Regions from separate parts of the Homo sapiens genome. Here region 2 is linked to region 1. Evidence: fine-mapped expression QTL. A gene starts in region 1. The other region holds a variant in brackets. All regions are shown on one strand. Distances are from middle to middle.

Region 1 (8,319 bases):
ATAACTATATAAAGGAAATGTAATATATATACACAATGGAATACTATTAAGCCATAAAAAAGAGTGAAATAGGCTGGGCATGGTGACTAACACCTGTAATCCCAGCACTTTGGGAGGCCAAGACTGGTGGATTGCTTGAGTCCTGGAGTTTGAGACCAGCCTGGGCAACATGGTGAAACCCCATCTCTACAAAAAAAAAAAAAAAAAAAAACAAATTATCTGGGTGTGGTGGCATGCACCTGTGGTCCCAGCTACAAGGGAGGCTGAGGTAGGGGGATTACTTGAGTCCAGGAGGCAGAGGTTGCAGTGAGCCAAGATCATGCCACTGCACTCCAACCTGGGCCACAGAATGAGACCCTGGGGGTGTCTCAAGAAAAAAAATAAGTAGATTAAAGAAACCTGTAATCTCAGCACTTTGGGAGGCCAAGGCAGGTGGATCACCTGAGGTCAGGATTTCAAGACCAGCCTGGCCAACATGGCGAAACCCTGTCTCTACTAAAAATACAAAAATTAGCTGGTCGTGGTGCCATGTGCCTGTAATCTCAGCTACTTGGGAGGCTGAGGCAGAAGAATCGCTTGAACCTGGGAGGCGGAAGTTGCAGTGAGCCGAGACTGCACCATTGCACTCCAGCCTGGGCAACACGAGTGAAACTCCATCTCAAAAAAAAAAAAAAAAACTTGCCATTTGTGGCAGTGTGTGCATGTAGGACATTCTATTAAGTGCAATAAATCAGGTACAAAAATATCAATACTGCAATACTGCTAGTTGTCACTCACATGTCGGGACTAAGAAATTGACCTCATATTAGTAGAGTAGAATTAGAGTTACTAGAGACTGGTAAGGGTTAGGGGAGAAGCAGATAGGGAGAGGTTGTTTAATAAATACAAAGTTACAGAGGAATAAGTTCCAGTGTTCTGTAGCTCTGTAGGGTGACTATAATTCAAAATAACTTGTTGTGTATTTTCAAATAGCTAGAAGAGAGGGTTTTGAATGTTCCCAACAGATAAATGATAAATGTTTGATGGGTTTGGTAGTTACCCTGATTCGATCATTATGCATTGCACACATGTATCAAAGTATCACTCTGTATCCCATAAATATGTACAATTCTTACATGTCAATTAAAAATAAGGCACTTCCTGCTTGCTTCCATTTCAGACGAGAAATTAGCTGTAATTCACATTTTACCATTTTTTATAGTCAGTGCAATCCTTTTTGTCTGGCTGTTTTTAGGATTTTTTTTTCCTTTGGTTTCCAAACGTTTAATTATGATGTGTCTTGGTGTGAATGTCTTTGAATTCATCTTATTTTGGATTTCTCAGCTTCTTGAATCTGTAGTTTTGTGCCTTTCACCATATTTGGAGAATATTTAGTAGTTGTTACTTTAAATACATTTTCAGCCCCATACGCTCTCTTATCTTTCCTGAATTTCCCAGATACAAAGATTAAGTCTTGTTATTATTGTCCCACAGATCCCCGAGGCTCTATAAATTTTTCTATTTTCTCTCTGTTGTTTGCACTGTGTAAATTCTATTGAAGTATCATCAGGTTCACTGGTTCCTCTGTCATTTCCATTCTACTAGTCCGTTCATTGAGTTTTTAACATTTCAGTTATTATATTTTCAGTTCTGTAATCATTTATTTTAAAAACAATTTAATTGAGGTTCATGTATCATAAATGCACTCTTTTAAAGTGTGTGGTGCAGAGGATTTTAGTATATTCAGGATTATGCAACCAGCACCACTAATTTCAGAACATTTTCATCACCTGAAAAAGAAATCCTGTAGCTGGCTGTGGTGGCTCACACCTGTAATCTCAGCACTTTGGGAGGCCAAGGTGGGAGGGTCCGATGAGGCCAGGCGTTTGAGACCAGCCTGGGTACATGGCAAGGCTTTCCATCTCTACAAAAAAATTTAAAAAATTAGCCAGACATGGTGGCATGCACCTATAGTCCCAGTTACTCAGGAGGTTAAGGTAGGAAGATCACTTGAGGCCAGGAAGTTGAGGCTGCAGTGAGCTATGATCATGCCACTGCACTCCAGCCTGGATGAGAAAGTGAGACTCTGTCTCCCAATAAATAAATGAATATATAAATACATAAATAAATAAAAATAAAAAAGAAAAACACTATACTATTTTCAGTCATTTTCTCTTTCCTCCTTCTCTAGCCCCTGGAAACCATGAATCTAATTTCCTTGTCTATTGATTTGCCTATTCTGGAAATCTCATATGAATGGAATCGTACCCAGTATGTGGTCTTTTACATCTGGCTTCTCTCACTGAGCATGTTTTCAAGGTTGACGCACATCCAGCCTGTGTGGGTGCCTTGTTCCCTTTCTATGGCTGAGTGACATTCCATAATGTGGACATACCGCATTTTGTTTCTCCATTTATCAGTGGATGCACACGTGAGCTGTTTTCATCTTTATTATGAATAATGCTGCATGGACATTCATGTAGAGATTTTTGTGTGGACATAAGTTTACATTCCTCTTAGATATGTACCCAAGAGTGGAGTTGCCCCTTCTGGGCTCAAGTGGTATCTTCCAGGAGTATCTCTGTTTAACATTTTGACAAACTGCCAAACTTTCTCAAAGCAGTTGCACCATTTTTGAATCTACCAGCAAAATCTGAGAGGTCCCATTTCTCTACATCCTTACCACTGTTTCATTTTGTTTTTAAGACAAAGTCTTGCTCTGTCACCCAGGCTGGAGTGCAGTGGTGCAATCTCAGCTCACTGCAACCTCCGCCTCTTGGGCTCACGCCATTCTCATGCCTCAGCCTCCCGAGTAGCTGGGACTACAGGTGCATGTCACCCTGCCCGGCTAATTTTTGTATTTTTAGTAGAGACAGGGTTTCACCATGTTGGCCAGGGTGGTCTCGAACTCCTGACCTCAGGTATCTGCCCACCTCAGCCTCCCAAAGTGCTAGGATTACAGGCGTGAGCCACTGCGCCTAGCCTGTTCCATTTTTATAACTTCTATTTCTTTGCTGAGATTTCAATTTTTCCACTTATTTCAAGAGCATTTGCAATTTGTTGTGGAAACATTTTTATGATGCCTGTTTTAAAATCCTTGTCAGATAATTCTGACACCTGACTCTTCCTGGTGCCGCCCTTAGTTGGTTGTCTCTTACTGAAATGGTCGTGTCCCTGGGTCTTCATATGATGAGTGATTCTTAACTGTATCTTCTCTCAAGGGTTTTCATTCCAACGACAGTTCAGTTCTCAGAGTTCTTGCAAAGCTCTTCCGTGTCATTCTTCTGGTGCTGCTGGGACTCCCACTCAAACCCTAATCCTACCCCTACCCCTAACTCTGCTAGTGCCATCTGCTGGCACAGAGGACGCCTCCTTGGCTGTCTGGGGCCACTGCCTTCTGTGGTGGTGGCATGGCTGAAGCCGACGGGCCCGGGTGGAGGGCAGAGACGCAGGGCTTCACTGATGCTGTGCTGTGGGCAGGTTGGACCATCTCTGCCTGATGGTTGGGTCTAGTCCCATCAGCAGCTTGATCAGTGTGGGAGGAAACCCACAGCCTGCACCCTCCCCATGTCTGGTGATGCTCAGGCCAGCAAGGCATTGGCTGCTCTGCTCACGGCTGAGAGGCAGAGCTGCTGATTCGCTCTGGAAAGGCTGTGGCTGTCCCCATTGGACCCTGGAGGTCCTTGGCAGCTCCCACTTCTGTATATGTGACTCTGGGCTGTGACCTCTGCCATTGCCCCAGCTAAGCAGCGAGAGCTTGCTGAAGCCCAGAGGGCTGTGGGACCATGAGGGCAGCTCTCTGGACCCTGGGACTCGGGCCCCTTCTTCTGAATCTCTGGGCAGTCCCCATTGGTAAGTTTCTGCTTCCTTCATCCATGGAACTTTCTGGAGGCATCAGCTCTGTTGATGCCCAGGCCCCGGGGCATGAGGGTCCCTGCAGTGACCTGCCGTCTGCCTGGGTCTCACTCAGCCCAGAGTGGGTGGGACATGCTGGGGCAGGAGGGAGGTGACTCCACATGGCTGGATCCCTGTGACCTCAGGGCCCCCAGACCCTAGCCCCACTGCTTGGAACCCAGGGTTCAGGGCTGGGTCAGGCCCTGGACAAAATGAGGGACACGGCCCAGTGTCTGGTCCCAATGACCCTGATCAACAGAGTCCTGAGGGGTCCTGCGGGGGCTGCTCCATCCACGTGCCCTGGAGCAGGGCTGAGGTCCTGGGAAGGAGGTGGGAGGGTTGGCTGCATCTGGCAGTGAGGTTGAGCATGGGGTCCCATGGAGATGCTGCACCCAGGTGGAGACACTGGGGTGTGAAGCCATGTGGAAGGGCTGCTGGGTCAGGGGCAGGGAGGTGTAGAGAGGGGGGTCTAGCTAGAAGGAACAGCAGGAGAGGCTGGAGGTGAGAGGGAGCCCCGGGGACCTGCGTACGTGGGCATGGAGCCATGATGTGAGTGTGGGGCTGGGCGGGAGGCAGGGGAGGGTGCCCTTGAGGCTGAGGAACACTTCACTGTCAAGGCTGGTCCAGGTGCCCAGCAGGGCGGTGACCTGGTGCTGGACGGAGCCACATCCCCAGCGGTGGGGTGGAAGTCTGTGGGCAGCTGCAGAAAGTGCAGAGGAGGTTAGGATTTGAAGGAAAGGCAGCAATGTGGCCACAGATGGATGGAAGCCTGGGGTTGAAGGGATTTGCTTTTGTGTCAACGATCGCATGCACAAGGGCCGGAATTCTCTATTACAACAAGAAATAGCTTTAGAAAATATAAAATGAAAAGCTATTCATAGCGGGCGTGGTGGCTTATGGCTGTAATCCCAGCACTTTGGGAGGCTGAGGCAGGCAGTTTACCTGAGGTCATGAGTTCGAGATCAGCCTGGCCAACATGGTGAAACCCCATCTCTACTAAAAATACAAAAATTAGCCAGTCGTGGTAGTGGGCGCCTATAATTCCCGCTACATGGGAGGCTGAGGCACGAGAATCAGTTCAACCCTGGAGGTGGACATTGCAGTGAGCTGAGATCGTGCCATTGCACTCCAGCCTGAGTGACAGAGCGAGACTTTTGTCTAAAAAAGAAAAAATTGCAGACACCAGCACGCATCCATGTCCTGAGAAGAACCAGGTGGGGAGGGTGATGAGGAGGCTGGGGGGTGTGGAGGGATGGATGAAGACTGAGAGAGAGGAGATTCAAGGCTCCCCAGGAGGTGGGAGGGAAAGGTCTTCATCTTGGACCAGGCAGGGTCCCCCCTCTGCTCCTGACTGCCATCGGGGAGGCTCTTTTCTGGGTGTGGAGAGTCCTCCAGGGGCCCTGGAGGCTGCTCTGGGACCACACAGCACCACCCACATGGACTTCCTCCTACTGGTTGCTTCATTTTCCTCGGGGTGGCTGTGTTGATGTGGGGTTGCAGAGGCCTGGAGAGGGTGGTTAGGGGTGCCTCCGTGGCGGGTGGGAGAGAAGGTGCTGGAGTAGCTGAGATGCTCAGAGACCGGAGGGTGAGATCCTGCCTGGAAGCCGGTATGGGTGGGGTAGTGGGGCTGGGTTTGGCATAGTGGGAGGGCAGGCAGGGGTGGTTTTCCTGGATACTCAGGGTTGCAGAGGACAGGACCGAAGGGTGAGCGGGGCACTCCAAGGGGTGTGGACAGTCACGTGGGTGGGGCAGGTGTGACAGTGGTGGGCTGGAGACCACAGGGCCTCCAGTGGAAGTAGGGGAATGATGCTTGGGAGGCAGAGAGTGGGTGGGAGGACCCACCCAGCTGCAGACCCAGGAGGACAGGGGACTTCCTTGCCTGGGGGATGGGGTCCTCCAGGATGTTGGGGCTCCAGAGGGCCAGGGAGGGGAGTAGCCCCCGGGGAGACACATGGGGTGAGGGTTTCTCTGTGAGCCGCGCCCATCACCTCTCTGGGACTGCTTGGTGGGGTGAGAGGAGCCCGACTCGCTGCTGAGGCCTCACAGGCCGTTCCCTGCTGCCGCGGCTGCCATCTCCTCCTGCGCCTCTGGTTGGTTCTGGCCCCTCTAACTGGACCTGTCTGTCTGTAGGTGGACCAGGTGCTCTGAGGCTGGCGTACAGACACAGCACGTGCGACGGAGTGGTGTTGGTCCGACACCACGGGGCATGGGGATACGTGTGCAACCAGGAGTGGACGCTGGCAGAGGCCTCTGTCGTGTGCAGGCAGCTGGGCTGCGGCCCTGCCGTGGGCGCCCCCAAGTATGTCCCGCTGCCTGGAGAGATGGCCCAGCCCTGGCTTCACAACGTGTCCTGCCGGGGCAACGAGTCCTCCCTCTGGGAGTGCAGCCTTGGCTCATGGTGCCAGAGCCCGTGCCCCCACGCATGGGTGGTGGTCGCGCTGTGCTCCAGTAAGTAGGGAGGAGTGAAGGGGACGGGGCTGAGGAGGAGGAGGAGTGGGAGGACGAGGAGGAGGACTGGGAGGACGCAGAGGAGGACTGGGAGGATGGCGGGTCTCGGAGACGGGCGGGGAGGCTGTGGGTCTGGAGCTCTCTCTGGGAGGGGCTCCTCTCTGGGCACCGGGGCCATCCTGACTGTAAGATTCAGCTGTGGAAAAACCAACGCCAGGGAGAGTCAGAGATTGGAGGAAGGAAGCAGAGTGCGGCCCAGGCGTGGGGGAGGCAGCAGCCGAGCGGGGGCGGGGTCTGTGGACGCCTGAGGCCCACACAGGTAGCTGATGATGGTTTCTTAGACAAATGACAGACAGGTACACGCTTTCCCTTTGAGGTCTGGCTCGAGGGTCCTCAGCTGTCCCTCACATTTTATGTGGCTGTGAGGACCCCCTCATAGCGTCCTGCCTCTGAGGCTGAACCACCTGGCCAGGACCTCCTACCATTTTGGGGCCCAGTGTGAACGGATCCTGCGGGGAACCTTGTTTCAGGAGACCAGCAGCAGAGCATGAAGCTGGGCACAGGGGTCTCTCTGAGCCCAGGGCCCTGTGTGACTGCCCGGTCACCTGCCCCTGAAGCTGGCCCTGGCTCAGCCCATCACTGTCCTCCCTGAAAAAGGAGCTGCCGAGTGACCATGCGGCCAGCTGGGTCCATACCTTAAGGAGGACCGGCCTGTGCTCCACAGACGGCACTTTCCGGGAGCTCCGGCTGGTGAAGGGCCGCAGTCCCTGCGCGGGACTCCCCGAGATCAGAAACGTGAATGGGGTGGACCGCCTCTGTGTCCTGCATGTGGAGGAGGCCATGGTGTTCTGCCGGGAGCTGGGGTGCGGCCCTGTGCTCCAGGCCCCCCGCCGGGACGTGGGCGTCGTCAGGAAGTACCTGGCCTGCAGGGGTACCGAGCCCACCATCCGCAGCTGCAGACTGGACAACAACTTCCGCAGCGGCTGCGACCTGCGGCTGGACGCAGAGGTGGTCTGCTCAGGTGAGGCTGCCACCTGATGTTCCCAGTGACCCTTGGGATGATGCTGGGCCCGGACCTGGGGAGGGCAGGGAGAAGGGGGGTGGGCGTTCCCACGGATGGGCCCCCCTGTCCTGCATGAGACATTGGGCGCAGAGGTGGGAAAGGGCCTCAGCTCTCACGCTGGTTCTCAGCAGAGTGGAGCTGAGTTTCTGGTGGCCCCACAGAGGTGTCCTGGCTCAGAACCCGCAGGCCATCTAGGGGTCCTGGCTGCCGCTGCAAGTCTGAGCTGCCTCAGCTGTGATCTCTGCATGTCTAACATGGATCGGGGTTGGGTAGAGGTCACTTCTTCCCAGCCCTGCCTCAACTGTGTGTGAGCTGCACTGGCCTCACAGCTCCTGGCCTTGTTGTGCATATGAGGAGCAGCTGAAATGAGGTGGATAGTCTGCCTGCTGCGGTACCCCAGAGAGGGTGGTGCTCAGTGGACCAAGGGGTGCCCTGACCTCGCCTCTGGGATTGCAGAGGGTGTTGCTGTCATGGCCTCGGACAGGCAGAGGCTGTGAAATACGTGAGCACCTGCAGCAGGTGACCCTGACCCTGACCTTGGTGATGCGGCCAAGGACGTCTGCTCTGCTCTGGGTGCCGGGTGGAAGGGCCTGTGGCTGCAAGTTCCTGCCTGTGCTTGGTAGACCCTCTGCCTAGATGCAGGTGATGGCTCCTGGCTGAAGCCTTCCGCAGTCTGAGGCTCAGGGCCAGGCTGTTGACCTGAGAACACCTGTCTCCTGCCTGAGAGGACGTCTGCCCCCAGGACACACCGAGGCCCGACTGGTGGGCGGCGAGCACCCCTGCGCCGGGCGCCTGGAGGTGACCTGGGGCACCGTCTGTGATGCGGCCCTGGACCTGGCCACGGCCCACGTGGTGTGCCGGGAGCTGCAGTGTGGGGCGGTCGTGTCCACGCCCGAGGGCGCCCGCTTCGGCCGGGGCTCGGGGCCGGTGTGGAC
Region 2 (8,319 bases), 22 kb after region 1:
TGTTGAGTGCGGCGTCTCCCTCCTGAGATCTAGTCGTTGAGTGTGGCGTCTCCCTCCTGAGGTCTGGTCAGTTGAGTGTGGCATCTCCCTCCTGAGATCTGGTCAGTTGAAAGTGTGGCGTCTCCGTCCTGAGATCTGGTCATTGAGTGTGGCGTCTCCCTCCTGAGATCTGGTCAGTTGAGTGTGGCGTCTCCCTCCTGAGGTCTGGTCAGTTGAGTGTGGCGTCTCCCTCCTGAGGTCTGGTCAGTTGAGTGTGGCGTCTCCCTCCTGAGATCTGGTCAGTTGAGTGTGGCGTCTCCCTCCTGAGATCTGGTCAGTTGAGTGTGGCGTCTCCCTCCTGAGGTCTGGTCAGTTGAGTGTGGCGTCTCCCTCCTGAGATCTGGTCGTTGAGTGTGGCGTCTCCCTTCTGAGATCTGGTCAGTTGAAAGTGTGGCGTCTCCCTCCTGAGATCTGGTCAGTGGAAAGTGTGGCGTCTCCCTCCTGAGATCTGGTCAGTTGAAAGTGTGGCGTCTCCCTCCTGAGATCTGGTCAGTGGAAAGTGTGGCGTCTCCCTCCTGAGATCTGGTCGTTGAGTGTGGCGTCTCCCTCCTGAGATCTGGTCGTTGAGTGTGGCGTCTCCCTCCTGAGATCTGGTCATTGAGTATGGTGTCTCCCTCCTGAGATCTGGTCAGTGGAAAGTGTGGCGTCTCCCTCCTGGGATGTAAGTTGTTGAGTGTGGCGTCTCCGTCCTGAGATGTGTTCAGTTGAGTGTGGCATCTCCCTCCTGAGATTTGGTCATTGAGTGTGGTGTCTCCCCCTCTTTCTTGTTCCTCTTTTGCCATGTGAGGCACCTGCTCCCCCTTCACCTTCCACCATGACTGGAAACTTCCTGAGGCCTCCCCAGAAGCAGATACCACTCTCCTTCCTGTACAGCCTGCAGAACCATGAGCCAATTAAACCTTTTTTTCTTAAAAATTACAGAGTCTCAGGTATTTTTTTATAGCAGTGTGAGAACAGATGAATACAGAGACCCCTCCCAAGGGAACATCCTGTGTCTAATTGTTGGTGGGTGTCTCACCGACCCCAGAGTTGAAGAAGCTCCTTTGCTTAGCTTGTTTCCCATAGGCTGAGCACAGGGTCCCCCAGGGAGTGCCTGGTTGACGGTGGTCAGGTGGCTCAGACCTGCTGAGTCTTGCTGGGGATGGCCCTGCTGCCTGAGGATCCCAAAACGTTGGAAGATGAGGGACTCTCATTGGGCTTTGAGGATCCCCGTAGCCCTAGGACAATTCCAGGTATGTAGCAGGTGCTCCCACATCTTACCACTTAGCTTGGATTTTGAGGTTTAAATGCTACAAATATGGTTACTTATTGTGGGCCATGAAATAACCTTAAATCAGTGTTGCAGTGACCTTTGATACTGAATGTTTTTATAAATCAACATTATTTTTAAAGAAAAGTGGTGTGTTTGATTAGGAAAATCCGGCATAGCTGAAGGTTATAACACATTTGAATAAATTAGAGGAAGTGTTCAAATCTTGGGTTGCTGAAATGCTATTACATATACTGTCATGGAAAATAGATAATCATTGGCCAGAGATTAAAAACATGTGCCGATTGATTGAGTTGAAGGATGTTAGAAGGTTTGGAAAATTAAAGGGGCCAGTTGTCTTCCTGTGATGAAATTAAGAAGCACTTTAAATCAGCCATGGCCACGTCTCTGGTTCTTTTGCAATGACTGTTTTCTCCATGTCTTATTTTCTGCACTTGGTCTCTAAGATAAATTGCTAGGTTTCTCCTGAGCACAATTATCATCTCAGTTCTACCTGTGGGCACTTGCTGTGACCACCTACACTGCTTTACCAATCAGTTGTGGGCCTTTGGCCCAAACAAGGAAGTGAGTCAACCCCCATGGGCTCACAATGCCTCATCTACGTGGCCAGGCCTGCTGAGTGCAGAGTGGGGGTCTGGGCTTCAGCCTGCCAGAAGACTCTTAGTCTCCTCAGACCCTTTGGATGCTCCATCCTTGAAGTCAGGACAGTGTCTCCCTGGACACTGCAGGCCACCTCAGCGTCTGGATGGGCACATAAGAATTGTGATGAAAATATTTACCTTCCCGAGTTCACATCAACAGCCAGACATGCTGACAGTGTGCATCCCGGTGTGGTGTGATGAGAATGTCACGTGCCTCTGTGTCTTTCCGCCCCAAAACCCGTAACTTTCATCATGAGTAAAAAAATAATCAGGCGAATCCCAGTCAAGGGAATACCTGGAAGATACAAAATACCTGGCCAATATTCTCCAAAACTACCAAGTTCATCAAAAGCAAGGAAAGTCTGAGAAAATGCTGCAGTCAAGAGAAGCCTAAGGAAACTCCTAACTGTGATGTGGACAGAAGGACGTTAGGGGAACACGGAGGAACTGGGAATCAGCCATGGATTGCAGTTGACAGTATAGGATCGATACTGGCACATTAATGTAACACATGCTAATGGGAGATGTCAGTAACGGGAAACTGGGTGGGGGCAAATTTAAAACTATTCTAAAAGATTAAGTCTATTTAAATAAAATTCCATCCTCCTGCAGGGAGGGTTGCACATGGCCCTTGTGTGCCCAGGGCAGAGGTGCTGGGGAGAAGCCACCAGCTCTGGAATTGATCTCCCCAGGTCCATCACCCAGAAGCCCTGCAGGTGCCCTGGCCTGTCTCTGCTCGAGCCTGGGGGCGGTTCCCATGGGGACCCCTTTCTACCTCCGAGTGGGGTAATTGCTCCCTGAGAGCCGCTCCTGGGGACACGTGGGCCTCTGTAGCAACCTCAGCATCCACCCCGAGGGGACAGACTTCACTCAAAGGTCAGCATCAAACACAGGAGACACTGACTGGGAAGAGACGGGCGTCAGCCTTGAGGCACCATCATGTCCATGGACATGTGGGCTCCCATTTAGACAGGAGCTGGCCTAGCCACACTCCTCACTCAGTGAGTGGCTGCAACCCTCCATGCCTGCCTTCCACATGGATGACCCACCTAATTTTCCTTTCAATGTTTTTGAAAAGTCAGATCTGATTCTACCCTGCCCTGACCTACATTAATGTGGAAAAAATGTTGCTGAAATTGCTTTGCTGTTGTGTTGAGGGTTTCCGTTTGAAACTCTAAGTGCCTGGGAACCTCTGTGGGCCTGCACTGTGCCCTATCTGTGCCCTCGATCAGGTGAGCAAGAAGCCGGAGCCCCGTGGTTTGGCCTTTAAGGCAGATCAGGATCTGTAAGAGGGGCCTGGAAGCTTCCTGTGAATCTGGTGCAAGGCTCCACCTGCCCTTGGTTTCACAGGCAAATGGGGCTCCTGTGATGGAGGATGGATTTCGGGCCTCAGACTGGGCAGCCAGGAGGTCTTTGGGACTGCCTGAGCTGAGGGCTGCCTGGGCTGAGGACTGCCTGGGCTGAGGGACTGCCTGGGCTGGGGGGACTGCCTGGGCTGAGGGCTGCCTGGGCTGAGGACTGCCTGGGCTGGGGGGACTGCCTGGGCTGAGGGCTGCCTGGGCTGGGGGGACTGCCTGGGCTGAGGACTGCCTGGGCTGAGGGACTGCCTGGGCTGGGGGGACTGCCTGGGCTGAGGACTGCCTGGGCTGAGGACTGCCTGGGCTGAGGACTGCAGCTGAAGGCTGCCTGGGTTGAAGACTACCTGGGCTGGGTGCCTCCTGGGCTGGGAAGGAAGTGGGTTTGGCCTTGTTTCCTCTGATGTTGACTAAGCC[G/A]CCTCTCCTTGCCCTGGGCTGGGCCTGTCCTGCCCGAGGAGGCTAGGTGGTCAGAGATGGGTGGTGGGAGAGGTATGTGAGGTTGGTTGAGTGGAGGCACTGGATTAGGGGCTGCACCGAGGCTGGGTCTGTGCCTTTCTTTGATGTATCCAGTCTCGGACACAGCCTGACACCCCCTGATGGAACAAACCTCCCACCCAGACCAGGAACAGGAATGGCCAGTCCATGCCCGCTTCTGCATGGAGTCTGCCCTCCTGAGGGAGCGGCCTGGGGTGGCTGAGGTAGGGCCGCAGTCATGGTTTCTACTAAGGAGCTGTGGCCAGGTCAACCTACAGCTGAAATCTGACAGCTGAGGTCACCTGGCCAAAAGAGCTGGAGTCTGGCCTGGTGGTAGTTGGAGCCACTCACTGCCCTGATGTCCCCACATGCCTCCCTTTGGAGAGTGCCCCTCACAGCCTCTGCAGGTGAAACCTGTGCTGTCCTGACGCTAACTCTCCATAAAGCCCATGCCTGCTGGGTGGTTTTCCTTCTCCGCGACCCAGAATCTTGTGCCCAGGTCACTGATGTGGTCTCCACCTGCCTCGGGGGCCAAACACACTTGCACACCACGAGCTTCTGTGTGCTGGAATAATGGAGGAAATGTTTAAAATCAAAGCAATGAGAGGCTCTTGCTGCATTTTTGTTATTTACTGTGATGCCAGCCCCGCTGCAGGCCGGCAGGGAGCACTGTCCTCGGGGGTGAGTGACGCTGGGCTTGTTGACTCCCTCGCAGAGTGGAGGGTTAATGCTCTGATTCTCCCTGGGCGCAGGGACCCATGTTAACATCTTAATTATGTGCTTTCTGCAGCAAAGTTGCCAACAGCAAACTTTCCCAGAGAGTCTCAGCAGGACAGCGAACAAGGGGACAGGTCCCAGAGAGTCTCAGCAGGACAGCGAGCAAGCGGACAGGTCGCAGAGCGACTCAGCAGGACAGCGAGCAAGGGGACAGGTCCCAGAGAGTCTCAGCAGGACAGCGAGCAAGCGGACAGGTCCCAGAGAGTCTCAGCAGGACAGCGAGCAAGCGGACAGGTCCCAGAGAGTCTCAGCAGGACAGCGAGCAAGCGGACAGGTCCCAGAGAATCTCAGCAGGACAGCGAGCAAGCGGACAGGTCCCAGAGAGTCTCAGCAGGACAGCGAGCAAGCCGACAGGTCCCAGAGAGTCTCAGCAGGACAGCGAGCAAGCGGACAGGTCCCAGAGTCTCAGCAAGACAGCGAGCAAGGGGACAGGTCCCAGAGAGTCTCAGCAGGACAGCGAGCAAGCGGACAGGTCCCAGAGAGTCTCAGCAGGACAGCGAGCAAGGGGACAGGTCCCAGAGAGTCTCAGCAGGACAGCGAGCAAGCGGACAGGTTCCAGAGAGTCTCAGCAGGACAGCGAGCAAGCCGACAGGTCCCAGAGAGTCTCAGCAGGACAGCGAGCAAGCAGACAGGTCCCAGAGTCTCAGCAAGACAGCGAGCAAGGGGACAGGTCCCAGAGAGTCTCAGCAGGACAGCGAGCAAGCGGACAGGTCCCAGAGAGTGTCAGCAGGACAGCGAGCAAGCGGACAGGTCCCAGAGAGTCTCAGCAGGACAGCGAGCAAGGGGACAGGTCCCAGAGAGTCTCAGCAGGACAGCGAGCAAGCGGACAGGTCCCAGAGAGTGTCAGCAGGACAGCGAGCAAGCGGACAGGTCCCAGAGTCTCAGCAAGACAGCGAGCAAGGGGACAGGTCCCAGAGAGTCTCAGCAGGACAGCGAGCAAGCGGACAGGTCCCAGAGAGTCTCAGCAGGACAGCGAGCAAGGGGACAGGTCCCAGAGAGTCTCAGCAGGACAGCGAGCAAGGGGACAGGTCCCAGAGAGTCTCAGCAGGACAGCGAGCAAGCCGACAGGTCCCAGAGAGTCTCAGCAGGACAGCGAGCAAGCGGACAGGTCCCAGAGAGTCTCAGCAGGACAGCGAGCAAGCCGACAGGTCCCAGAGAGTCTCAGCAGGACAGCGAGCAAGCGGACAGGTCCCAGAGTCTCAGCAAGACAGCGAGCAAGGGGACAGGTCCCAGAGAGTCTCAGCAGGACAGCGAGCAAGCGGACAGGTCCCAGAGAGTGTCAGCAGGACAGCGAGCAAGCGGACAGGTCCCAGAGAGTCTCAGCAGGACAGCGAGCAAGGGGACAGGTCCCAGAGAGTCTCAGCAGGACAGCGAGCAAGCGGACAGGTCCCAGAGAGTGTCAGCAGGACAGCGAGCAAGCGGACAGGTCCCAGAGAGTCTCAGCAGGACAGCGAGCAAGCGGACAGGTCCCAGAGAGTCTCAGCAGGACAGCGAGCAAGCGGACAGGTCCCAGAGCGTCTCAGCAGGACAGCGAGCAAGGGGACAGGTCCCAGAGAGTGTCAGCAGGACAGCGAGCAAGGGGACAGGTCCCAGAGAGTCTCAGCAGGACAGCGAGCAAGGGGACAGGTCCCAGAGAGTCTCAGCAGGACAGCGAGCAAGGGGACAGGTCCCAGAGAGTCTCAGCAGGACAGCGAGCAAGCGGACAGGTCCCAGAGCGTCTCAGCAGGACAGCGAGCAAGGGGACAGGTCCCAGAGAGTGTCAGCAGGACAGCGAGCAAGGGGACAGGTCCCAGAGAGTCTCAGCAGGACAGCGAGCAAGGGGACAGGTCCCAGAGAGTCTCAGCAGGACAGCGAGCAAGGGGACAGGTCCCAGAGAGTCTCAGCAGGACAGCGAGCAAGCCGACAGGTCCCAGAGCGTCTCAGCAGGACAGCGAGCAAGGGGACAGGTCCCAGAGAGTCTCAGCAGGACAGCGAGCAAGCGGACAGGTCCCAGAGAGTCTCAGCAGGACAGCGAGCAAGCGGACAGGTCCCAGAGAGTCTCAGCAGGACAGCGAGCAAGCGGACAGGTCCCAGAGAGTCTCAGCAGGACAGCGAGCAAGCGGACAGGTCCCAGAGAGTCTCAGCAGGACAGCGAGCAAGCGGACAGGTCCCAGAGAGTCTCAGCAGGACAGCGAGCAAGCGGACAGGTCCCAGAGAGTCTCAGCAGGACAGCGAGCAAGGGGACAGGTCCCAGAGAGTCTCAGCAGGACAGCGAGCAAGGGGACAGGTCCCAGAGAGTCTCAGCAGGACAGCGAGCAAGGGGACAGGTCCCAGAGAGTCTCAGCAGGACAGCGAGCAAGCGGACAGGTCCCAGAGAGTCTCAGCAGGACAGCGAGCAAGCCGACAGGTCCCAGAGAGTCTCAGCAGGACAGCAAGCAAGCGGACAGGTCCCAGAGTCTCAGCAAGACAGCGAGCAAGGGGACAGGTCCCAGAGAGTCTCAGCAGGACAGCGAGCAAGCGGACAGGTCCCAGAGAGTCTCAGCAGGACAGCGAGCAAGCGGACAGGTCCCAGAGAGTCTCAGCAGGACAGCGAGCAAGCCGACAGGTCCCAGAGAGTCTCAGCAGGACAGCGAGCAAGCGGACAGGTCCCAGAGTCTCAGCAAGACAGCGAGCAAGGGGACAGGTCCCAGAGAGTGTCAGCAGGACAGCGAGCAAGCGGACAGGTCCCAGAGAGTCTCAGCAGGACAGCGAGCAAGGGGACAGGTCCCAGAGAGTCTCAGCAGGACAGCGAGCAAGCGGACAGGTCCCAGAGAGTGTCAGCAGGACAGCGAGCAAGCGGACAGGTCCCAGAGTCTCAGCAAGACAGCGAGCAAGGGGACAGGTCCCAGAGAGTCTCAGCAGGACAGCGAGCAAGCGGACAGGTCCCAGAGAGTCTCAGCAGGACAGCGAGCAAGGGGACAGGTCCCAGAGAGTCTCAGCAGGACAGCGAGCAAGGGGACAGGTCCCAGAGAGTCTCAGCAGGACAGCGAGCAAGCCGACAGGTCCCAGAGAGTCTCAGCAGGACAGCGAGCAAGCGGACAGGTCCCAGAGTCTCAGCAAGACAGCGAGCAAGGGGACAGGTCCCAGAGAGTGTCAGCAGGACAGCGAGCAAGCGGACAGGTCCCAGAGAGTCTCAGCAGGACAGCGAGCAAGGGGACAGGTCCCAGAGAGTCTCAGCAGGACAGCGAGCAAGCGGACAGGTCCCAGAGAGTGTCAGCAGGACAGCGAGCAAGCGGACAGGTCCCAGAGAGTGTCAGCAGGACAGCGAGCAAGGGGACAGGTCCCAGAGAGTCTCAGCAGGACAGCGAGCAAGCGGACAGGTCCCAGAGAGTGTCAGCAGGACAGCGAGCAAGCGGACAGGTCCCAGAGAGTCTCAGCAGGACAGCGAGCAAGCGGACAGGTCCCAGAGAGTCTCAGCAGGACAGCAAGCAAGCGGACAGGTCCCAGAGCGTCTCAGCAGGACAGCGAGCAAGGGGACAGGTCCCAGAGAGTGTCAGCAGGACAGCGAGCAAGGGGACAGGTCCCAGAGAGTCTCAGCAGGACAGCGAGCAAGGGGACAGGTCCCAGAGAGTCTCAGCAGGACAGCGAGCAAGGGGACAGGTCCCAGAGAGTCTCAGCAGGACAGCGAGCAAGCGGACAGGTCCCAGAGCGTCTCAGCAGGACAGCGAGCAAGGGGACAGGTCCCAGAGAGTGTCAGCAGGACAGCGAGCAAGGGGACAGGTCCCAGAGAGTCTCAGCAGGACAG

Evidence for each region. PIP is the estimated chance that this variant, and not a neighbour inherited with it, causes the effect. A credible set is the group of variants that fine-mapping cannot tell apart.
Region 2: its variant is the best candidate, but not a certain one, in a credible set for the expression of SCART1 in esophagus muscle (GTEx, PIP 0.68).

Annotation. Positions count from the first base shown.
Region 1 is chr10:133,450,234-133,458,552 of GRCh38, forward strand. It overlaps SCART1 (scavenger receptor family member expressed on T cells 1), which reads left to right and starts at 3,712. Exons shown (of 12, transcript NM_001396050.1): 1 at 3,712-3,831; 2 at 6,004-6,321; 3 at 7,046-7,342; 4 at 8,127-8,319. The coding sequence starts at 3,765. RefSeq lists an enhancer at 3,437-3,486.
Region 2 is chr10:133,472,333-133,480,651 of GRCh38, forward strand. No RefSeq gene overlaps it. Among named protein-coding and RNA genes, the nearest start is that of SCART1, 23 kb to the left of the region's middle. The variant G/A (reference allele first, on the strand shown) is at 3,723.